Linked DNA regions of Homo sapiens. The protein of the gene in region 1 interacts with the protein of each later gene in a pairwise test. Each region holds a gene or a part of one and is shown on either strand. Other genes may lie near its edges. The genes, in order: DMRT3, FHL5, FRS3, REL, PSMA3, TRIM23 and KRTAP5-7.

What was found.
Region 2: the proteins of DMRT3 (region 1) and FHL5 interact in binary tests that used the Homo sapiens proteins (3 or more experiments, as listed by UniProt).
Region 3: the proteins of DMRT3 (region 1) and FRS3 interact in binary tests that used the Homo sapiens proteins (3 or more experiments, as listed by UniProt).
Region 4: the proteins of DMRT3 (region 1) and REL interact in binary tests that used the Homo sapiens proteins (3 or more experiments, as listed by UniProt).
Region 5: the proteins of DMRT3 (region 1) and PSMA3 interact in binary tests that used the Homo sapiens proteins (3 or more experiments, as listed by UniProt).
Region 6: the proteins of DMRT3 (region 1) and TRIM23 interact in binary tests that used the Homo sapiens proteins (3 or more experiments, as listed by UniProt).
Region 7: the proteins of DMRT3 (region 1) and KRTAP5-7 interact in binary tests that used the Homo sapiens proteins (3 or more experiments, as listed by UniProt).

The regions. Positions count from the first base shown.
Region 1 is NC_000009.12:986,655-989,443, reverse strand, and holds part of DMRT3 (doublesex- and mab-3-related transcription factor 3), read right to left. Parts: intron 1-2,789. UniProt on the Homo sapiens protein: Probable transcription factor that plays a role in configuring the spinal circuits controlling stride in vertebrates.
Region 2 is NC_000006.12:96,604,628-96,608,127, forward strand, and holds part of FHL5 (four and a half LIM domains protein 5), read left to right. Parts: intron 1-122; coding exon 123-297; intron 298-1,274; coding exon 1,275-1,444; intron 1,445-3,500. UniProt on the Homo sapiens protein: May be involved in the regulation of spermatogenesis. Stimulates CREM transcriptional activity in a phosphorylation-independent manner.
Region 3 is NC_000006.12:41,769,901-41,773,400, forward strand, and holds the end of FRS3 (fibroblast growth factor receptor substrate 3), read right to left. Parts: intron 3,060-3,500; coding exon 2,898-3,059; intron 2,065-2,897; coding exon 1,916-2,064; intron 1,634-1,915; coding exon 719-1,633; 3' UTR 276-718; downstream 1-275. UniProt on the Homo sapiens protein: Adapter protein that links FGF and NGF receptors to downstream signaling pathways. Involved in the activation of MAP kinases. Down-regulates ERK2 signaling by interfering with the phosphorylation and nuclear translocation of ERK2.
Region 4 is NC_000002.12:60,916,074-60,919,573, reverse strand, and holds part of REL (proto-oncogene c-Rel), read right to left. Parts: intron 2,698-3,500; coding exon 2,557-2,697; intron 1,384-2,556; coding exon 1,279-1,383; intron 1,181-1,278; coding exon 968-1,180; intron 1-967. UniProt on the Homo sapiens protein: Proto-oncogene that may play a role in differentiation and lymphopoiesis.
Region 5 is NC_000014.9:58,254,843-58,258,342, forward strand, and holds part of PSMA3 (proteasome subunit alpha type-3), read left to right. Parts: intron 1-2,902; coding exon 2,903-3,004; intron 3,005-3,082; coding exon 3,083-3,156; intron 3,157-3,500. UniProt on the Homo sapiens protein: Component of the 20S core proteasome complex involved in the proteolytic degradation of most intracellular proteins. This complex plays numerous essential roles within the cell by associating with different regulatory particles.
Region 6 is NC_000005.10:65,607,334-65,610,833, forward strand, and holds part of TRIM23 (E3 ubiquitin-protein ligase TRIM23), read right to left. Parts: intron 2,126-3,500; coding exon 1,910-2,125; intron 1-1,909.
Region 7 is NC_000011.10:71,526,082-71,529,169, reverse strand, and holds KRTAP5-7 (keratin-associated protein 5-7), read right to left. Parts: upstream 1,904-3,088; 5' UTR 1,870-1,903; coding exon 1,372-1,869; 3' UTR 501-1,371; downstream 1-500. UniProt on the Homo sapiens protein: In the hair cortex, hair keratin intermediate filaments are embedded in an interfilamentous matrix, consisting of hair keratin-associated protein (KRTAP), which are essential for the formation of a rigid and resistant hair shaft through their extensive disulfide bond cross-linking with abundant cysteine residues of hair keratins.

The DNA.
Region 1 (2,789 bases):
ATCCATTGAAATCTTTCATAAGAAGCCACTTGAGGCATTGGCAAACTTGGTTGCCAATAACTTGTACTAGAAAGCAAACGAAACCAGCTATGAATTCCGGATGGCAGGATAAGTTGCTGGAGAGGAAAAAAGGAAGTGGCTAGAAAGGGTTTGTTAAATTGCACGGGGGCATTATTATCCATCAATGAAACAACGCATCACACTCCACCGCCACGGGTGGCACGAGGCAGATACCTGTGCATGAACTGTTTTGCTGGTACAGTTCATGGAAAGGACTTGAAGATACCTTTTTTTAAAGCCAGTGAAATTTGAAGATACCTTTTTATATTATATGAAAAGAAGAAGGAGGGAAAAAAAGGCTTCCCAAATAAAGCAGAGACTTGCGATAAAGTAAACCAGTTGCAAATTTAACATCTTGACCTAAGAACATTTTTACTTAACAGCTGGTAATATTGCAGGGCTAAGCACACAGAAAAGAGTAAGTCAGAGTGGTTTGCTTTGCAGTAGTAAATTCCAACAGGACTTTATAATAAAGAAACATATTTTTTAGTAGCAAGCTATTTGCAAATAGAGTTTTGTCCTTTTTTGAAACACGCGCTGGCTGTGGCTACTCAAAGCCAGGGTAGCTGATCGAAAGATGAAAATTCCTAATGACCCAGTTGTTGAGTTGTAAACAATTGCTTTGCCTGTGTTTTCTGCTGCCCTGCCTGAATAGCTTCATTGTTGCCTTCTCTGTGGGCACACCTGATTATATACAGATAGCCAGCCGGTGAAATTTCATCAAAGCACCCTCTAGAAACAATCTTCTCCTACACTTGTCATTTTAAAAGCCTTAAGGGCCTACTTATGAACATTCTTCTAATACAGGTGTATCTTAAGTGTAACCAAAAAACAAAACTTTGTGAAATTTCATCAAAGCACCTTCTAGAAACCATCTTCTCCTACACTTGTTATTTATTTTAAAAGCCTTAAAGGCCTACTTAGAAACATTCTTCTAATACAGGATGTATCTCAGATGTAACCAAAAACCAAAACTTTGGCCTTTAACAAAGCAATAAATATGTGGCAAACATAAGTAAATACACTTTAAAACACTCTTCAATTACCTCAGTGCAAGTGTCAACATACATCTGATAGGAATTCATACTTATCCCAAATTTGCATTTTAATTAAACTGCTTCTTTTTTAATATAAAATATAAGGTTTCCAATGAGAGGTTCATTTGCGTCACATACATATGAAGCCATCTTCACTTTATATAATGACTCTATAGAAAGACTCTACTGTAGAATGACTCTATTTTTGTAAGAGAAATTTGACATATTCTCTCCTACAACTTCTTAGGATGGGGGACACAGCTTTTACCTCTTGAGTTAATGTGGTATTTGAACTCATGTCCTTGATTCAAAAGAGAAAAACAGCAACAAAAAGGCTTCTATAGATTTACTTTATAATCAGCTAGATCTATTTAAATGTTCCTGACTCATGACCCATACATACTTCTTGGCTGTTACTCTATTATTAAACATTTGAAAATTATTAAACACTTGAAAAGTGATAGCATATTAATATACTATCACTTTTAGAAATTGGAAAAACAAGTCAAATACTCTCCCCATGTAAATATGGACATAAAGTACTTCTTTAAAATACTATGTACTTCTAAACAGTTTCCTTATTTTTTAATTTTAGCGTAATTATCAGCACCAAGTATTTATATTTCTGCACGATACTGGGAGAAACAGAATAAAGGATGAAAAACACCAAGAAGTGTAAGACCCACACCTAGCTTATGGACCTTATCTTCTAGCTGGGGAAATAAGACACACATGCAGGAGAAGAAGCAAACAGGGCCTGGCAGCATTTGCTAAGCCTCAAATATGACACACATTGTATACCAATGTTCATGGCAGCAGCATTCACAATAGCCAAAAGGTGAAAGCAACCCAAATGTCCATCAGTGCATGAATGTATAAAACGTGGTGTACACACACACACACACACACACACACACACACACACACACACACAGTGGGATATTATTCAGCCTTAAAAAGGAATGGAATTCCAATACATGCTATAACATGGATGAACCTTGAGAACATTAGGCTAAGTGAAATAAGCCAGACACAAAAGGACAAATACTGTATGACTCTACTTATATTCGATACCAAGAATAGGGAAATTCAGAGAGAAAGTAGTGTGGTGGTTGTCAGGGGCTGGAGGAAAAGGGAATGGGGAGTTATTGTTTCATGGGTATGGAGTTTCCGTCTGGAATGATGAAAAGGTTCTGAAGATGGATGGTGGTGATGGTTGCACAACATTTTGAATAAATGCCACTGAATTGTGCCCCTAAAAATGGTTAAAATTGTAAACTTTATGTTATATATACTTTACCACAATAAAAAAAGAAAAATATATGCCACACAGTGTCATAGTAATATAGAGAATGAAGAGATTTTTTTAAGCAAGAGAAACAACTAGTCCTTCTTGGGAATAAAGCGTACATAGGCACAGCTGGAAAGCTCAAAGCTCAACTTTTTTTTTTTTTTTGAGACAGAGTCTCACTCTGTCACCCAGGCTGGAGTGCAGTGGCATGGTCTCGGCTCACTGGAAACTCTGCCTCCTGGGTTCAAGTGATTCTCCCGCGTCAGCCTCCCGAATAGCTGGGACTACAGGTGTGTGCCACCACACCCAGCTAATTTTTGTATTTGTAGTAGAGACAGGGTTTCACTATGTTGGCCAGGCTCCTCTCGAACTCCTGACCTCATGATCCACCCGCCTCAGCC
Region 2 (3,500 bases), on another chromosome or scaffold:
TTCCCTCACGCTACTAGCACAACCTACTGACATGAGAGTCCCAGGAGTGTTCAGTTTTGTTTCATAAAATGGCCTGTATTGTCACAACCACATTTAATTAACTTTTATTTACTGTCTCAAAGGATCTTTGTTACAAAGACCGGCACTGGCATGAAGGATGCTTCAAGTGCACCAAATGCAATCACTCTTTGGTGGAAAAGCCTTTTGCTGCCAAGGATGAGCGCCTGCTGTGCACGGAGTGCTATTCTAACGAGTGCTCCTCCAAGTGCTTCCACTGCAAGAGGACCATCATGCCTGGTAGGGTCTCAAGGGGGCTCCTGTCTCTAACTGAAGCTGTGATGCTTTTCATTAAGTCCCAGCACATGAGGAGTGCAGCAGCTCCCAAAACCCTGGTTTTGAGAAAGATATCTTTCTTACTCTCTCAATCTTCTTCCGTGTACTTTAGAAATAAAAAGATTATTCATTCATTATCCTTGAACAGGTAAATTACAGTGTTCTGTGTATTTTCATATAGTCTAATTCATAGAAACATTTCAAACCAGAATCTTACCCATAAAATAAAGACAAAATGTATACCAATAACACTACATTAAACACAGTGCCCTAGGCACAATCAATGGCATCAGAAAGAGTGATTCATCATAGGCGATTGGGGCCAACTGCCATTTTGTAGCTTGACACAAACTGTTTTGAGGATCGGTTATTGTTATTCTCTCTTAGGGAAGACAGGGTTCATGTATATCATTCCACTTTTGGCAAGGACTAATTCTTTATATTTTGATCTTCTCAATCTCTATGGTCAGCAGCATAAGAACATAATTCATTCTCTGCCACTCTTGCTCTCTCATTTTCTTATTATGGATTCAGAGAATTTCTAGAAGGCCATAACTGCACAGTATAGTCTCAGTAGTTGTGCTCTGGGCATTTTTAATACCCTTGTAATGATTATTATGGCCCAATTTATCCAAACCATGTGAAACCATTAGGAGTCTCCATTAAAAGTACTTTTACATCTCCAGATTATAGGTTATGCAGAGCTTGAAAAAGTTTTCAGTCTAAGAGTGATTCTCCATCATCATGGCTAAACTTTATTAACCATTTTTTTTTCTCCAGATGAATGGGTTTTTTTGAACCTGAAAAAATACTATTTTTCTAAAAGGACAATTCATTTATCATCTTAACTTAAAACGTTTTTAAGTAATTTGATCTGTATTTGCTTAAAAAATAAAATTATGCTTGACTTATACTAACATGGCCTTACTTTTGGAGTACAGGTTCCCGCAAAATGGAATTTAAGGGAAACTACTGGCATGAAACCTGTTTTGTGTGTGAGAATTGCCGACAACCTATAGGGACAAAGCCTTTGATCTCCAAAGAGAGTGGCAATTATTGTGTGCCATGTTTTGAGAAGGAGTTTGCTCACTACTGCAACTTTTGTAAGAAGGTAATTTTCTAAAGAGGGTGAAGCTTGTGGAAACTCAGACTATTTCTTTTTAGCTGTATCATATATTTAGAATGAACTGATACTATTATGTTATATCTGTAATCAACACACCCATGGTAGTTTGGACTTTCAACATGTCCAAACCACTAGTTGTCACGATGAGCATGACCATCTTTTTTTTTTTTATTAACCATAAAATTCCAGCCACAACAAGAATTTAATATTCCAAACAGCTCAAGTGATTTGGTATTCCAGTTCATTTCACTGTTTTTTGTTGTTGTTGTTGTTTTATTTTTTTGGGATGGAATCTCGCTCTGTCACCCAGGCTGGAGTGCAGTGGTACAATCTCGGCTCACTGCAACCTCTGCCTTCCAGGTTCAAGAGATTCTCATGTCTCAGCCTTCCAAGTAGCTGGGATTACAGGTGCGTGCCACTGTGTCCAGCTAATTTTTGTATTTTTAGTAGAGACAGGGTTTCACCATGTTGGCTAGTCTGGTCTCGAACTCCTGACCTCAGGTGATCCACCTGCCTTGGCCTTCCAAAGTACTGGGATTACAGGCATGAGCCACCACACTCGGCCCATTCACTGCTTTTATACAAGATCTCACGTATTCTGGGAGAAAGCACAGGTCTCTCTTTGAATACAGATGTTTCTTAAAAAATAATGTTTGATCTATTCAGTATTAACTGTTTCAGAGAAATATGGATTTGCCTCACAAAGTGACTAAGGGAACCAAGTTAAACAGGATGTTTAACTTCTCACATTCTTTCTCAGCAATGCAAATGTCTTCTTGACTTGAAGCTTTTGTATTTCCTATGAGTAGGGCAATCGGCTCAAGAGAGTGCCAAGATCATGGGGGAAGTTCAGTAGACAAAAGACAGAAAGAAGACTAAGAGCAGCAAGTTCCTTCACTCCAGTTCCAGGATCATGTAGGGCCTTCTGACTTGGCTTCCCACTCAAAAAAAACATTTTCTAAGAGAAAAAAAAAGTAATATTTTTGAAGTAAACTTCATCCAATTCTTTTTTTATCCTCTAAGCTTTTATGTGAAAAAGTAGCTCTAACACCTTGATGAAGCCTGTCTGCATTCCATAAAATATATATGGAGGTTCTCAAAGAAATCCTTGACCTGCGAGGCATCATAAGTTTAAAATGACACCATAAATTGTCATGAGAAAGCTGAATCATGAAAATACATTGGATTAGTATAGTGGTTTCAAAGTATTTTTTATCTGTGGGTTACTTTGGCAGAACTCTTAAGCCCATTTGTATATCTGGACAGCTGGAAGTCACACTACCACTTTCTATGCACACATATGTGAACACACATGCACATACACACACACACACACACACGCAGTTAACTGTTTAACATACATAACCAATACCACTACTGCATTTAAAGAGGCAGCAATACACTATGCTAAGTTATCATTATTAAATTACACTATGTTGATGGCTGAGAATTACAATTGATCACATGACATAAAATAATCTTATGACTGAGACCTTCATTACTCTACCAAAACACTGGCTTAGAAGGTGACTTTACAAGCAGCAATCAAGCCATATGACATATGAAGCTCCAAAGAATTACCAGGGTCAATGACGGCATTTAAAAACATGCTGGAGCTGGGCATGGTGGCTCACGTCTGTAATCCCAACACTTTGGAAAGCCAAGGTGGGAAGATTGCCTGAGGCCAGGAGTTCAAGACCAGCCTGGGCAACATAGTGACACCCTGTCTGTATAAAAAAAAAAAAAAGTTTAAAAATTAGCCAAGTATGGTGACACGTGCCTGTAGTCCCAGCTACTTGGGTGGCTGAGGCAGGAGGATCACTTGGGCCCAGAAATTCAAGGCTGCAGTGAGCTATGATTGAGCCACTGTACTCCAGCCTGGGTGACAATGAGATCCTATCTCTAAAAAATATACAAAACTTAAAAACTAAAGAAAATAAAATCTTGCTGGAAATAAAATGAATAGGTTTATCTCACTGTTTTGAGAGACAACTGAGTTGGCCAATTTTAGGCTGCATTTCTTAAAGACAGACTAAAACAG
Region 3 (3,500 bases), on another chromosome or scaffold:
CCTGTAACTCTAGCTACTTGGGAGGCTGAGGCGGGAGAACTGCTTGAGCCCGGGAGGTGGAGATTGCAGTGAGCTGAAATCACGCCACTGCACTCCAGCCTGGGCCACAAGAGCGAAACTCTGTCTCAAAAAAAAAAAAAATCATGGACTTGTCACAAAAACCATAACTGACCCAAATTCCCCAGAGTGAAGCCCTTACCTCGATTAGGCCTGCCCTGTGTCCAACCCAGGACCACACCAGAAAAGATTCCCTAAGAAGATGATATCCACTGGGCCAGAATTTAAAAATAATTATATTAATAATAAATATGTTAAATTACATTTAAAACAATAAATAGAAAAATAAACTGATAAATAAAATCAACAGGTACAAAATGTTTCAAAATTCCAACCAAAAAAAACACACACGGACAGTCGGCAGACAAGACAAATGGACAGAACGGGAGGGCGCTAAACGCAATCACAGGAACCCTTCACAGTTGACGTCTCGGCTCCCTCCTCGCCTGGTCACCCTTCTCTCCCCAGCCTGGAGACAGACCAGGAGACTCGGTGGCTGATATCTCTGGGGACTCCAGCCAGCACAGGGAAGCATCTGGTCCCACCTCCATGCCTTCTGCAAAGCAACCCTGAACCCTGGGGAGGGTGGGTTCAGAGGACAGGAGTGTGAGGCAGAGGCTGGATCATGGTGGGGCAGAGGGTGGTGAGGACCGGGAAGTCCCTACAGAGGCAGGTCGGTGCTGTTGTGCCGGGTTTTCCTGGCGGTGCCATCGTCTCGGGGCAGAGCTCTCTGCAGGTTGGACATGGCCACGGTCTTTTTGAGGTCAATCACGGCGTAGGAGTCTGAGCTTCGGGCAGGGTGGGTGGTGGGCATGGGGGCTTGGGGGCTCGAGGGGTTCTGGGGCCCCTTAGGGCGGTCTCCACCCCAGCCCTTTAGCTCCACCTGGATGTAGTTAAGCTGCCTTGGGGGCTCGGGCCCCGGCCGGCGGAAATCAAAGTTGAAGACCCTTGGGGAGCCGCGGCGGCGGGTCAGTGGCACAGGAAAGCTGCCGTGGCTGCGGATGGCGGCCCGGGTGCTGGTGGGCTTCTGCAGTGGGGTCTCGTCCTCCTCACCATCAGGGAAGCCATTGGAAGAGGGTGTGAGCCCATCCCTCGAGTCCCCATCATCCCCAGCCTCCCCTCCCAGCTGCTGGGCTTGGCTTTCCCACACAGGGGGCAGTGGGGGCAGGTTCTCATAGTGCAGCAGGGCGGCCCGGCGGTGGGCAAGGCCATTCCAGCCCGGCTCCTCTGGGCTCAGTCTCCAGCCAGCCCCTCGCCACAGCCCCCCGGTGACGTTCTCGTAGGTGCACTTGGGCTGGGCTGGACACTCAGAAGGGGCCTCATTGTTATTATTGTGGTGTGGGGGGTCATGCAGGCTGGGACAGAGGCCCTGGCACTTCACCATGTGCCGCCGAGCAGGGGTCGGGCCCAACACAAACTTCACCTGGCCTGGCTGCAAGAACACCTGTGGGTCCCGTTGGTCAGGTCCCCGGGCCTGCGGGAGGAAGGGTGCCTGACCCTCAGGCAGGGGCTGCAGGCAGTGGCGGCCCCTGCGGTGGTCATCTTCACTGGCCGGTGTGTTGACATAGGTGTGGGACTGGGGAAAGAGTCCAAGTGAGGCAGGAGTGTCCCAGGGCAGGGAGAAAAGAGAACAGAAGGGACAGGATGAGAGAAAAGAAGCACACAGAAAAAGACCTGGAGTTTCTTCTTCCTTGTCCTCCAACCCTTCTGAGGAAGCTGCTCCCTTTTGGGGACAGGAAGGGACCGTTACAATGTTCTTCCCCTTCCCGTGATCCTTACTGGGAGGAGGTGGCCTTATTTCCTATCCCTCGTCCCCACCCAGACCAACAGGGCAGGGGCTGGCCGGCTGCGTGCTCACCTGCTCATCAGGAGCAATGAGGGCATGGGTGGACTCTTCCCCAAGCGAGGGGTGCCGCAGGCTGCTTGTCGAGAGCCGCCGGGGAGCTGAGAATCGTGGGCCCTCTCCAGGGCAGCCATTGGAAAAGCTGGAGACAGTGTAGCCTAGAGCTGAGCACACGGGAGACAAGCCCAGGAGAGGGGAACTTAAGCCACCTGACAACCACTTGCAGCTGTGTGTGTGGCATCCTGGGACTCCTCTAATGGAGGACAGATGTTCTCAGGGCGTCACAGTGGTTAAACCCCACTGAGCCACCAGCCCCCCATTATCCTTCATCTTTCCTCTGCTCTTCAAACCCTGCCCTTTCCCTCAAGCTCAGCTTGAAGCACCTCACCACTGTCTCCATTATAGCCTCACCCGAAACGCATAAAGCACATCTTGCTGTCACTGGACCGTCCCTTTGCTTCATTCTAGGTCTGCCAGTAAGGTCCAGGGAAGCTCCTCAAAAAAAGGGACTGCGCTTCTATTTCTCCTGTCCCCCATGGGCCAGTCCAAGGAGCGCTGAATACCAAACAGGTACCTGATCTGAATTCAATGACTGAATAAGCAGAAATTGTAGGACCCTCTCCAGAATACGGTCATGGCCAGAGATGCCTGCACCAGCAGCAAGGAAGGTATATGGGGATGACCCAATAGACAGAGGAAGAAAGCAAAAAAACTCCAGACTGCCAATTCTACGGAAACCCAAAGTCTTCCTGTCTGCTCCCCAACCATCAGTCAATACAAGGCCCAGAACTCAACAACCTCAGTTTGAGTCACCTAGCCCAGCCCAGGACTTACCGATCCTCAAGAATGGTTCTGATCATGGACAACTGTCCTGGAAGGTTGGCTCACCCAGCCTTCTCCCAACCAGCCAGCTTAACTAGTCCCTCAGATTTGTGCTTCCTGGGCGTGTGTGTGTGTGTGTGTGTGTGTGTGTGTGTGTACACTGGGGTCTCCTCACCATTGGGTGGCTGGGGGGCTCGAGGGAGGTCAAGCTCAGCGGGGTGGCTATTGCGGGTGATGATGACAGGCTCTTCCATCACATTGATGCTGTTGCACTGCATCAGATCCTGAAGGAGGTTGAAGATTTCCTCAGCCCGGGAACACTTAAATGCAAATATTCCTGGAGAAGGAGAGGAAGAAATGACCCTAGGCAATAGGGAAGGACCAGAGGAGCTCAACAGATGCACAATGTGCAGGAAATGTCCCTCAACTCCAGTCCCAGGCCTGTAGGGGCAGGAGAGCCTCTCCTCATCTTGAGCATTCTTTTTCTTTTCTTTTTTGAGATGGAGTTTTGCTCTTGTTGCCCAGGCTGGAGTGCAATGGTGCGATCTCAGCTCACTGCAACCTCTGCCTCCCAGGTTCAAGCAATTCTCCTGCCTCAGCCTCCCAAGTAGCTGGGATTACAGGCGCCCGCCATTACACCTGGCTAATTTTTTGTATTTTTAGTTGAGACGGGGTTTCACCATGTTGGTCAGGCTGGTCTCAAACTCCTGACCTCAGGTAATCGGCCTGCTGCGGCCTCCCAAAGTGCTGGGATTACAGGCGTGAGCCACCACGCCTG
Region 4 (3,500 bases), on another chromosome or scaffold:
CATGCCTGTAGTCCCAGCTACCTGGGAGGCTGAGACAGGAGAATTGCTTGAACCCAGGAGGCAGAAGCTGCAGTGAGCCAGGATTGCGCCACTGTACTCCAGCCTGGGCAAGACAGAGCAAGACTCCATCTCAAAAACAAAAAAACAAAAAAACAAAAAAACCCCACAAAAATTAGCCAAGTGTGGTGGTGCGCACCTATAGTCCCAGGTACTCACGAGGCTGAGGTGGGATGATCACCTGAGCCCAGGAGGCTGAGGCTCTGGTGAGCCACGATCATGCCACTGTACTCCAGCTTGAGTGACAGAGTGAGACCCTGTCTCAAAAAAAACCCAAAACAAGCTGTTTAAAATATTCATCTTGTTTTCTTATCACACAAGTCAATAATGTCAACTAATGCAATAAGGTTTGATAAGAAACCAATATAGAGACTACTCTCTGAGTGGTAAGTGCACAAAGACTAAAACAGACCTTCAAAAATAAAATAGAAATTTTAGTAAGCAGTTTAGATACTTTGAAATTATTCCATACTAATCAAACCTCTTCTTGAAGAAAGAGATGCAGAGACCAGCCTAGCCAACATGGTGAAACCCTGTCTCTACTAAAAATACAAAAGTAGTAGCCCAGCGTGGTGGCACGTGCCTATAGTCCCAGCTACTCAGGAGGCTGAGGCAGAAGAATCGCTTGAACCCGGGAGGAGGAGGTTACAGTGAGCTAAGATTGCGCCACTGCACTCTAGCCTGGGTGACAGTGAGACTCTGTCTCAAAAACAAAACAAAACAAAACAAAAAACAACCCAACAAATAAAGAGATGCAAAGAGCATAAAGAAAAAACCAACAGAAAGCTTCCAGGAAAAGAAACATAAATTATGAATATACATAACTGTACTCAAATGAATATTACAAGAAGATGTTATTAGCAGGACCACTTCAAGAAATATATAAATTATTACCAGCAAAATGTCATACCTTTTTCATCTGGCAGATATCTAAAATCCATAGATTCACTAACTTCCTGGTCAGAAGGTCTCCGCAACTGCATTTTTACTGTTACGGGTTCTGTGATAGCTTTGCAATATGGTGGAGTTTTGAAAACAATGGCTACTTGACGGTGTACATCAGCTTGTGAAAAGATGCCTTTTGCTTCCCAATCGTTCAACACAAAACGAACTTCTATGTCATCTAGTCAATAAGAAACCAAAAAAAAAAAAATGGGAAAACAAAGTAACTGCATCTATTAATCTAAAATTTATTCTAAATTCAATGAAATAAATAAATACCTTTCTGAACTTTGTCACAAAGTAGAAATATTTCATCTCCTCCTCTGACACTTCCACAATTCTTGTTTACACGACAAATCCTTAATTCTGCAGTATTTGGAGCACCTAAATATAAAGGATTTTCAAAAAAATGAGTTGCTACCTTAGTAATATTTTATTTCTTTTTGCAGGGAAGAATTTGAGGAAAAGCATTCACAGAATAAAAGTTTTAGTGTATAGATAAATGACACTAAATACATTAATCATCTATTTATCTGTCCACTTCCTTTCTAACTGCTTTACTTTAGACTTTGTGGCTTCATTTCTAGGTAATGACATATTCTCTAATTACATCTCCCTGCTTCTAAATTCTGATTCCGCCAATCAATCCTACCCACTGTCACCAGATTAATCTTCATAAATCATGACCACATCCCCATGGCAATACAATTTTCCCTATGGCAATACATCTCCCTATGGCAATACAACTTTCATGCTTCCTTTATAGCCCTAAGTCTCTCTATCCTTCTACACATAAAACAGGTATATCATACACCATTGGTGGACGTATATCTAAGTCTATGTACACACACACACACGTACACACACACACACACACACACACACACACACACAGTATTTTGGGGGAAAGTTTCATAATCTTTCAAAATGAGATATATCCATATCCTTTGAGCCAGCATTTGCCATGCAGTGAGCCATGACTGCACCACTGCACTCCAGCCTGGGTGACAGAGTGAGACCCTGTCTCCAAAAAAAAAAAAAAAACCAATAAAAAAAAATATACAAGAATATGTATTGCAGTACAGTTTGCTAGGCCAAAAAGAAAAAATGAGAAAAGAAACAAACCAAATGCCTTGTAAGAGGGTAATTAATAAAATTATGATATAACTACATAATAAAATATGCTGCTACTGAAAAGAATAAGGTGATTAAAAGGAAAATGTCCAAGATATATGGTAAGAAGAAAGTTAGTTTTTAAAACAATCATCACTTATGATTTTAAGTTGCCAAAATTGTACTGTGTCAAAAATGATGATGATGACAATGTATCTGTGTATATACAGGAAGAAGAAACTGGTAAAATATGCACCTAAGGATAGTGATTATCTCTGGAGGATGAGATTAGAGAAGATTTCCTTTCTGTTATATATTTCTCTAATGTCTGGAAGTTTTCCTATCATGAATATATTGTTTTCCTAATTACCAAAATAATTTTAAGAATTAAACTATTACAAAAAACAAGTTAAGACTACAAATATAAGAAAATGAAGTACTTACGGTTGTCATAAATTGGGTTCGAGACAACAGGAGGAAGAGCAGTCGTCAAATTACCATGTTCATCAGGGAGAAAAACTTGAAAACACAGTCTCACCACATTGAGGTCACAATCTTCAATATCATTCAGCTGTTTTTCAGGGACTGAATAGAAAAAAAAAATTTTTTAAATGTAATAGTCACATAGACCTAAAGACTTGCTAGGTCCTCCTCCCTGCCCATTATAGCCAATAACCTTGAATAGCATCCAAATATGTATGAATAAAAATAGAACAGTATACAATCTCAAGAATGCCTTTTATCATTCTTATCAAGTAATCACTATCTAACAGTATTTGATAAATTATAGCCATGTTCAGGAAGTAACTATCCCCTCACCTGGGATTTAAAGCAAAATCCCAAGTTGACATTAATAACAAATCAAAGTTTTAAAAAATAGTTGCAGGTTTGTACACAACAAAGAATGGCATTTACCCATTCATTCAACAAGTATGTATTTGGTCCAGTTGTTGTGTTAAGGACTCTGTAAATTATCTCCTAAATCTGTACAAGAATTACTTTCATCCCCATTTTACAAACGAGGAACTGAGTTTAGTTCGTTTTTTTGACATGGGGGTCTCACTCTGTTGCCCAGGCTGGAGTGCAGTGATGCGATTTTGGTTCACCTCAACCTCCGCCTCCCAGGCTCAAGTGATCTTCCCATCTCAGCCTCCTGAGTAGCTGGGACTACAGGCACATGCCACCACGCCCAGCTAATTTTTCTATTTTTTTGTAGAGATGGGGTTTCACTATGTTGCCCAGGGTGGTCTCAAACTCCCAGGCTCAAGTGATCCACCCACCTTGGCCTCCCAAAGTGTTGGGATTATGGGCGTGAGCCACTGAGCCTGGCCTGGAACTGACTGTAAAGAGATGAATTACTTGCCCAAAGTTTCACAGTGACAGGGTGG
Region 5 (3,500 bases), on another chromosome or scaffold:
CAAGAGTGATAATAGTACTTGGCACATACAGTTGTTGTGAGGTTAAAAATTATTATGCAAAATGCTTAACATGTAATGAGTGCTCAGTATCTCTTAGTAATTATCATTATTACTATTACTGGGTAGCGTAGGAAAAAAAGGCTATTAAAGATTGTGATACCACTTTTAAATTCTGTAACTGTCCTGGGCTAGAGGGTTTCAAAAACTTGGTTGGTTTATGGTACCTTAAGTGTCTCAGTAGTTTTTCTCATGGCTTCCCTAGGCCGAAAATACCTAATGGTTTCATTTATTAAGTATTTAGATCCAAAGAACTTAGTGTTTACATCCTAAAAACTTAGTAGCCGTTTTTTTTTTTTAAATACACACATAGTGAAAAATATTTTTATTTAAAAATTAAAATGTTTTATTTTAAGCAACCAAAATTTCTAGTATATACACTGCACAACCTCCCAAATTTGGATGTGGCCACTGTCATTTCCTGTTCCACACTGATTTTTGCACAGTACTTACTTTTTTTCACAGCAACCACTAACAGCCAAGCTTCTCAAAGATGTGGTGGCATTGAAAGGAATGTAGTAAAACGATCTAATGTTCAAACGGAACTACTTGGACATTTTTCTCCAAACTTAGAATGTGCCACACTAGGCCAGGTGCAGTGGCTCACACCTGTAATCCCAGCACTTTCGGAGGCCAAGGCGGGCGGATCACCTGAGGTCGAAAGTTCAAGACCAGCCTGACCAACATGGAGAAACCCTGTCTCTACTAAAAACACAAAAATTAGCCGGGCGTGGTGGCGCATGCCTGTACTCCCAGCTACTCGGGAGGCTGAGGCAGGAGAATCCCTTGAACCTGGGAGGTGGAGGTTGCGGTGAGCCGCGATTGCACCACTGTGCTCTAGCCTGGGCAACAAGAGCAAAACTCCATCTCAAAAAAAAAGATATGCCACACTAACATGTGATTTCACTGCAGTGCCTGAGGACCTCTCGGCACATACATAGTAACTGCAATTCTGTTTTTGTTTTTGTTTTTGTTTTGAGACAAAGTCTCATTCTGTTGCTCAGGCTGGAGTGTAGTGGCGTGATCTCGGCTCACTGCAGCCTCCGCCTCCCGAGTTCAAGTGATTCTTGTGGCTCAGCCTTGGGAGTAGGTAGGATTATAGGTGCCCGCCACCAAACCTGACTAATTTTTGTATTTTTAGTAGGGGTTTCACCATGTTGTCCAGGCTGGTTTCAAACTCCTGACCTCAGGTGATCCCCCTGCCTCGGCCTCCCAAAGTGCTGGGATCACAGGCATGAGCCACCGTGCCCGGCCTAGTAACTGCAGTTCTAAGCCGCAAATCTTGAAAGAGGAATGGTTTATCATTGTAGTTTATTCAGCCAATAGGCTGAAAAAAGATTTGCGATTGTGCCTTTTAGAACAAAACAGTTACAGGTTGAGTATCTCTCGTCTAAAATGCTTGGGACCAGCAGTATATCGGATATTTTTCGATTTTGGAATATCTGCATTATATACTCATCAGCTGAGCATCCTTAATCTGAAAATTCAAAATCCAAAAAGCTCTACTGAGCATTTCCTTTTTTTTTTTTTTTTGAGATGGAGTCTCGCTCTGTTGCCCAGGATGGAGTGCAGTGGCGCGATCTCGGCTCACTGCAACTTCCGCCTCCCAGGTTCAAGCAATTCTCTGCCTCGGCCTCCCAAGTAACTGGGATTACAGGTGCCTGCAACCACGCCTGGCTAATTTTTGTATTTTTAGTAGAGACGGCATTTCACCATCTTGGCCAGGCTGGTCTTGAACTCGTGACCTTGTGATCCACCTGCCTCAGCCTCCCAAAGTGCTGGGATTACAGGTGTGAGCCACCAGGTCCGGCCTGAGCATTTCCTTTGAGTGTCATGTTGGCACTCAAAAAGTTTCAGATTCTGAAGCGTTTTAAATTTCAGATTTTTGGATTAGATATCCTCAACCTGTAATAACTTTAGAGAAAAGAACAAATTTGGGCCGGGCACGGCGGCTCACACCCATAATCCCAACATTTTGGGAGGCTGAGGCAGGCTGATCACCTGAGGTCAGGAGTTCAAGACCAGCCTGGCCAACATGACAAAACCAAACCCTGTCTCTACTAAAAATATAAAAATTAGCCAATCCCAGCTACTGGGGAGGCTGAGGCAGGAGAATCCCTTGAACCTGAGAGGCAAAGGTTGAAGTGAGCCCAGATGGTGCCATTGTGCTCCAGCCTAGGTGACACAGTGAGACTCTGTCTCAAAAAAAAAAAAAAAAAAAAATCTGACCAAGACCCATGGTTTTTATTCGTTATAATGAGGTAGTGGTAGTAAATCAGGGGAAGAGGATTTATGATAGAAGTAGTCCTGAATATTGGCCGGGCACGGTGGCTCACGCCTGTAATCCCAGCACTTTAGGAGGCTGAGGCAGGCAGATCACGAGGTCAGGAGATCAAGACCGTCCTGGCTGACATGGTGAAACCCCATCTCTACTAAAAATACAAAAAAATTAGCCGGGCGTGGTGGCAGGCGCCTGTAGTCCCAGCTACTCAGGAGGCTGAGGCAGGAGAATGGCATGAACCCAGGAGGCAGAGTGTGAAGTGAGCGGAGATCATGCCACTGTACTCCAGCCCTGGTGACAGAGCGAGACCCCGTATCAAAAAAAAAAAAGGAAATGTCCTGAATATGAACATTGGACAAAGCAATGAAGTTATACTTACTAAATTTCTAAATTATAATTTCATACTCAAGCATCAAAATGCCTTGTAGAGAGACCTTTAAGCCAAAAAAGTTTATTTTGAATGGTAATACTTGTTAAAAAAATGTTTAATAAGTCTTTATTAATTGCAGACTTTGATTTGTGATAGGAATGTGTTCCTCTAGTAAATTGGTGCTTTTTTTTCAGGCAGTAGCAGGTTTGTTGGCAGATGCTCGTTCTTTAGCAGACATAGCAAGAGAAGAAGCTTCCAACTTCAGATCTAACTTTGGCTACAACATTCCACTAAAAGTAAGTTGATAACATATTGAGGAACCTTTTGGACAGTAATAGAAGTTTATTAATAAGCTCTTCTGCTTCCCTCCATAGCATCTTGCAGACAGAGTGGCCATGTATGTGCATGCATATACACTCTACAGTGCTGTTAGACCTTTTGGCTGCAGGTAAGAAATTTTGTGAATTATTCAAAAGGCAGATCTGTACTATAGATATTTATTATGTTCCCCAGCATCTTAGCCTTTTACATACTTAAAAATAGAAACTCGTCGATAAGTATTAGGGCAATGATTAAATAAAACAGTGTACATAGAAACTACTTGAGGCTGGGTGCCATGGCTCAAGCCTGTAATCCCAGTACTTTGGGAGGTTGAGGTGGGAGGATCCCTCGCGCCCAGGAGTATGAGACCAGCCTGGCCAACGCAGTGAGAACCTATCTCTACAAAAAAAATTTAAAATTTAGCCAGGTGCAGTATCACATGCCTGTAGTCACAGCTACTTAGGAGCTGCT
Region 6 (3,500 bases), on another chromosome or scaffold:
TCTCATCTCGAATTGTAATCCCCACATGTCAAGGGAGGGACATGATTGGATTATTGGGGCAGTTTCCCTCATGCTGTTCTCATGATAGTGATTAATCATGACATCTGATGGTTTTAAAGTGTGGCACCTCTCCTTTGCTCTCTCTTTCTCTCCTGCCGTCCTGTAAACAAGGTGCTTGCTTCCCCTTCGCCTTCCCCCATGATTGTCTAACTTTCCTGAAGCCTCCCCAGCCATGCAAACCTGTAAATTAAGCCCCTTTCCTTTATAAATTACCCAGTCTCAGGTAGTATCTGTAAAGCAGTGTGAAAATGGACTAATATACCAGTCATTTTGGCACAACACTTCAGAAACTCTAAAATACTTAAATATTTCAGTAACTATGAACAAACTTTTTCATAAAATAAATATGAAAATACTTTTAAGTGTTCAAGTAAATATGATTTAGGACATGACTCCACTCTGATTTTGCTATGTAGCTTCATTATCCGCCATGAGTTAAACATGTATTTATTAAGCTCTTTCTATCTAGATGCAAAGAATTTAGTGACACAAAGATGAACAAGATGCATCAAAGATGAACAAGGTCAGCATCTAAAACACATAGGCATATTGTGTCATTCAAGGTCAAATCGGAAGACACAAATCACACCATTACTTGAATAGAAAGAACTTAAAATAAAAACTGTTAACTAGGTGTAGTTATTAACTAGGTAGCTAAAAGGTTAAAAGGAACTCTGAGGTATTAAGGAGGTAGCAATTGTATGAAATAACATAGCTACCACTTCCAGTGCTAAAGGAATAAAAGGAAGAAGTTAGAATTATTAAAACTTAGAAACTTGCAGGAGTGGCTCATGGAGCTGAAACTCAAACCTCCGAGAAGGGTGGTCTCCTCACATGAGTAACTATGCCCCCTCTTGACAGTACCTAACATGGGCCCAGCTGGCAACACAATTATGAGGTCTGTAGAGTTCTAGCCCTAGTATCACAAAATAGAGGATAGAAGAGTAGGTTTGGAGCTGAAAATCAACTTAATAAATAGCATACATATCAACTGTTACAATTCAGTGTGGTAAGGACTAAATGATAACCCAAGACTGATGAGGCTATAGACTGGCCACTCTCATGTAAGTGTAATCACATATTTAAGAGAAAAAGCTCTACAATGGTACAAGGCTTAGCCTACAATGATTTGAAATCAACACAATTATTAGCAATATATCAGTGAAGATAACACAGACTGCAGCTTTTCTGAAATTCCTAGGGCAATAGTTATTCTTATACCTCACACTTATGAAAACAGATCCAAAACACAAATGGGTAAAGCTGACATTTGTGTTAGAATAACTGAATCTCATTTATTTAAAAAAGTAAGTCATCTGCAAACTGGGTAACAAATTTCTTATGGTATCTCAACCATCACAAAACATACGTTTGCTCTAACAGTGAAGAACCACTGAATTATAGCAGACGTAGGCAGTACATGGTAGAGAGGCACTCAAAAAAAGACCAACAAATAGAAAGCTTCAAAGAAAGGCAAATATTTAAGCTGGACCTTGAAGGAGAAGGAAGATTTCCACTATTAGAAAAGAGAGATATATGCACTCCAAGCAGAAAAAAAAAAAAAACTACATATATGCTTGGCAAAGAAGAGTAAAAGGATTTGGCATAACTGAAGAATGGCAAGAAGTTAGAAGGCCTCAAGAACCCATGGCTTATGGTGGGAAAGGCACGTGAACGACACTGATAATTCCATACTAGTGAAATAATTCAAGGTTGCAGACCATTTCCTAAGCACAAAGTTACTGCATACAGCAGACACAAAATATTAATAAAACACACTAATGTATACCTCTGGTAATTATCTACTTAAACTTACAACTAAGTCCCTAACCACATTTAAACTACCTACCTGCTGCAAAGTCTTTTCACAGTGGAGGCAGGCTGCAGAAACCTCTGACAACAAAATAGTCATATCTTCTTGTTGCTGCCTGAGCCAAATCAATTTTTCACGAACATGAGCATCAACAACACTTAGAGCCATTTCTTCTTGACGACACAGAGTTTCATGTAGATCATAAAAATAAGCTCGAATACATGACCGGGCATTCTCTGCAGTCCCTGGTACCTAAGAAAATGAAAATAAATTTTAAGCAACTGTAATGTTAATAAAGATTTTACCTGTGAAATATTTAAAATTTCAGCCTAGGCAACATGGCAAAACTCTGTCTCTACAAAAAATGGAAAAAATTAGCCAGCCGTGGTGGCATGTGCCTGTAGTCCCAGCTACTCAGGAGGCTGAGGCGGGAGGATTGATTGAGCCCCAGAAGTCAAGGCTGCAGTGAGTGGTGATCACAACACTGCATGCCAGCCTGGGTGACCGAGCGAGACATTGTTTAAATACCATCTATATTAAATTCCAAAATATAAATCTCCATGCTAGATCTTTCCCCTAATGCACAGACATTGGAAATTCAACTGTTTATAAATGACATCTCAAGCAAAATGGAATGCCTAATCTCCAGTCTCCCCTATTCCCAAACCTAATTGCCTCTGTCTTGGTAAATGGCAACTCCATCCTTCAGGATGTTGAAGCAAAAACAACCGGAGTCATCATTATCAGCTCTCTTTCATAGCCCACTAGTCCCTCAGCAAATTCTGCTGACTTCAAAATACACCCAAAATCTGATCATGCCTCATCACCTCTAAGTTACCTATCCAATCAATATTAACAATTAATCACTAAGACCTATCTATTCTACTTATTTAAAATCTCAAATCCATTGACTTGTGTCCACTCTCACTACCCTAGTGTATTATAGGCCATAAACATCTCTAGTATTTTAACTAGAAAACTTTAACAACATCCTAATAGGTCTGCCTGCTTCCAATTTTGTTGCTCCTCCAATTCATTTTCTACATTTAAAACAACCTTTCTTGAGGAAAATCTGATTATATCATTCCTAAGTCAATTCTTCAATGGCTCATCACTGTCCTTAAACTAAGTTCTGAACTCTTTAACATGGCTGACAAGATCCTGCATGATTTGGCTTTGAACTCTCCATATCCTCTTTTCTTGTCATGTCCCATTCAATACTTAAAGCTCTAACTACAGTGAGCTTCTTTAAGTCTCTACAATATGTACAATCCTCACTTACAAACATTTTAACATATTGTTCCCTTCTTGGGACAACTCATTCCCCGTTCTGCTCTTTTCCCTGACTGAAATTCTTCAAATCTCAGTTTAAACACCATTTCTTCTATAAGGACTTCTCTGACCTCCATAAATCATTGTCCCTGTTTTGTGATGCCAAAGCACCCTGTACTTCTCCTCCATAAAATAGTTACCATATTTCAAACTCTCTCTTTTCCATGATGAATGAGTTCCTGAAAGACAGGGACTTTTAAAAAACTTTCTAATGATTGGTGCAATACTGGCAAATTGTAATTGCCCATTAATTACTTAGTAGAAGGTGAAAATATGAAAAATAAAAAAGAATGAG
Region 7 (3,088 bases), on another chromosome or scaffold:
TTTGCTTTTTCCATACAGCATTCACAGCAGAATAACGACACCACTGCTGCCACCATGACTACTAAAAATAGCTTAGGAATTTTATTTTTGTGTTCTTTCTATGCTTAGGACATATCCCACCAATAAATTGCTGTGTTTCCAAATAACTTGAAATAATTCAACTCTATTAATATTGCCTTTTTTTTTTTTTGACGGAGTCTTGCTCTGTCGCCCAGAATGGAGTGCAGTGGCGCGACCTCGACTCATCACAACCTCCCCCTCCCAGGTTGAAGCCATTCTCCTCCCTCAGCCTCCGAAGTAGCCAGGATTACAGACACGTGCCACCACACTCAGCTAATTTTTATATTTTTAGTAGAGACAGGGTTTCACCATGTTGGCCAGTCAGGTCGCAAACTCCTAACCTCAAGTGATCCGCCTGCCTCGGCCTCCCAAAGTGCTGGGATTATAGGCGTGAGCCACTACGCCCGGCCCTTTCAAAATTCTTAAAAAGCAATATTGGCTTGGTGCTAGGAGTGTTTATTTACAGAGGCAACAGGCTGTGTAACAACAAAGACAATCAGAGTAAGTTGGTTACAAAAACTTCCCAAAGGAAGATGGCAGAGGCCTGGACCAGGGAAAGGAGGCAAGTCTGAACTCCCCAGAGTTTTCAGCAGCCTCTTCTGCTTCTGTGGCCCTGGCCTGAGGAACAGTCCTGTCTCCATCAGATCAATAGCTGGAAAGACCTAGGAAGAGAGGGGTTCTGAGAAAAGAGGGGTCAGCCAGGAAGGAGATGAGAGGCAGAGGAGACAGCCAGCCCCATCCTAGCACCTTCCAGCAACATCAGCATCAGACCCACGCAGTCCGAAACACAACAAGAACAAGAAAACAATAGCCATAGCCATAGTAATGACCCCGAACAACAGAGAAATCAGCAAGATATGTGTTTCAGTTTGTCGGCATGGTATTTTTATTAGTTTGCAACTTTTCATTTAAGATAAAGCAGAGTGTTGGACAGGCAAAGCCACTCCAAGGAAGCCTCTTAAACGCCCACCTTGTTGCAGGTGGGACACTCATGCCCAGCTGCTCCAGCTGGAAAAGACAGGACTTCAAGTGGGTTCAGGAGCTCAGGCCTCTGAATACACAAGCAAAGGCAAGGCTAGCGGGTGAGGGGTGATTCAGCCGCAGTTGCAGTTGACTTGGGAAGAGAATTTGTTAGGAGGGAATGGACATTAATTAGGGTGGACTCTCCTTAGGAAAAGGCAGGCAGATATGGCTTCATCTTATAGTGAGGAATGGACCCTGAGCAGTGGTTTGGGGCTCAACGATGAAGGACAGGTCACAGCTTCGGAAAATGGGGTTAGCAGGACTCACATGAGACCTGAGTCCAGAGCCTCAGATCTTACACTGGCAGCACACGGGGACACAGCAGCTAGACTGGGAGCAGCAGGGATTGCAGCAACTGGACTGGCAGCAGGATGACCCACAGCCTGAGGAACAGCAGCAGGGCTTACAGCAGCTGGACTGGCAGCAGCAGGGCTTACAGCAGCTGGACTGGCAGCAGGATGACCCACAGCCTGAGGAGCAGCAGCAGGGCTTATAGCAGCTGCACTGGGAGCAGCCACAAGAACCACAGCCCCCCTTAGAACCCCCACAAGAGCCACAGCCCCCCTTGGAGCCCCCACAGGAGCCACAGCCTCCCTTGGAGCCCCCACAGGAGCCACAGCTGGAGCAGGAACAGGCTGGCACACAGCAGCACACGGGCTTGCAGCAGCAGACGGGCACACAGCAGCTGGAGCCACATCCCCCACAGCCAGAGCCACAGCCCCCACAGCCGGAGCCACAGCCCCCACAGCCGGAGCCACAGCCTTCGGAACAGCCACAGCAGCCCATGGTTCTGGTGGATTGAGGGTGGAGCAGGTAGAGGAGCAGGTGAGAGGGAGGTGCAGGTGTGGAGCCCCCTGAGCCCGGGCTCTTTATATACCTGTCCAGAGGTCAGGCACAATACAGGGTCGCTTCCTTGTGACTGTTTACGCTATTTTTCCAGAGCTCTATTTTTTTTCCTCTTTGCTAGTGACTTCCTCCTGGCTCAGTTGAGCATCTACTTTCTTTGTTTACTAAATTTGTCTTTTTCCCTATTTGTTTTGGCCCCTACAATTGAAACCTCAGCTCCAGGCTGTCTGGTGCTTCCCGCAAAGCTCCAGGGTGCTGGTCACCTGCTCTCTGCTGACCACATGTGACCAATGGGCAACAGCCTTTGCCCACGTGCTCTCATCTTTCCTGTGTTGACTCCCCCAGGAATATTAATTTCACATTTTTAGATTTCAAAATTATCCATGGTCTTTATATTTTACTCATGCCATTCTCAGTTTTGCATTGCTCTAAAGAAATACTTGAAGCTGGGTAATTTATAAAGGAAAGGTTAGAATGGCTCATGGTTCTGCAGGCTGCACAAGCATGGCACCCACCTCTGCTCAGCTTCTGGGCAGGCCCTCAGGGAGCTTTTCCTCATGGTGGAAGGTGAAGCAGGAGCAGGCTCACCACATCGTGAGAGTGGGAGCAAGGGGTGAGGAGGGGCCACACACTTGCGAACAACCAGATCTGAGTGAACACACTCATCACCAAGGAGATGGCGCTAAGCCAGTCATGAGGGATCCGCCCCCATGACCTAAACACCTCCTTGCAGGCCCCTCCTTCAACACTGGGGATTACATTTCGACAAGAGATTTGGAGGGGACATCCCAACTGTATCATTATCCCCTTGACCCCTCAAATCTCATGTCCTTACATTGCAGAATAGAATCATCTCTTCCCAACAGTCCTCTCAATGTCTTGACTCATTCCAACATCAAGTCCAAAGTCCCAAGTCCAAGTCCCTTCCACCAATGAACTTGTGAAAATCAAAACACATTATTTACTTTGAAGATACATGAGGGTGGAGGCATTGGGTAAACATTCCCATTCCAAAAGGGAGAAATCAGCCCAAAGGAAGGGGCTACAGACCCCATGCATGTCTGAAATCCAGCAGGGCAGCCATTAAATCTTAAAGCTCCAAAATAATGTCCTTGGACTCCCAGTCCCACATCCAGGGTACACTGGAGTGAGGGGTGGG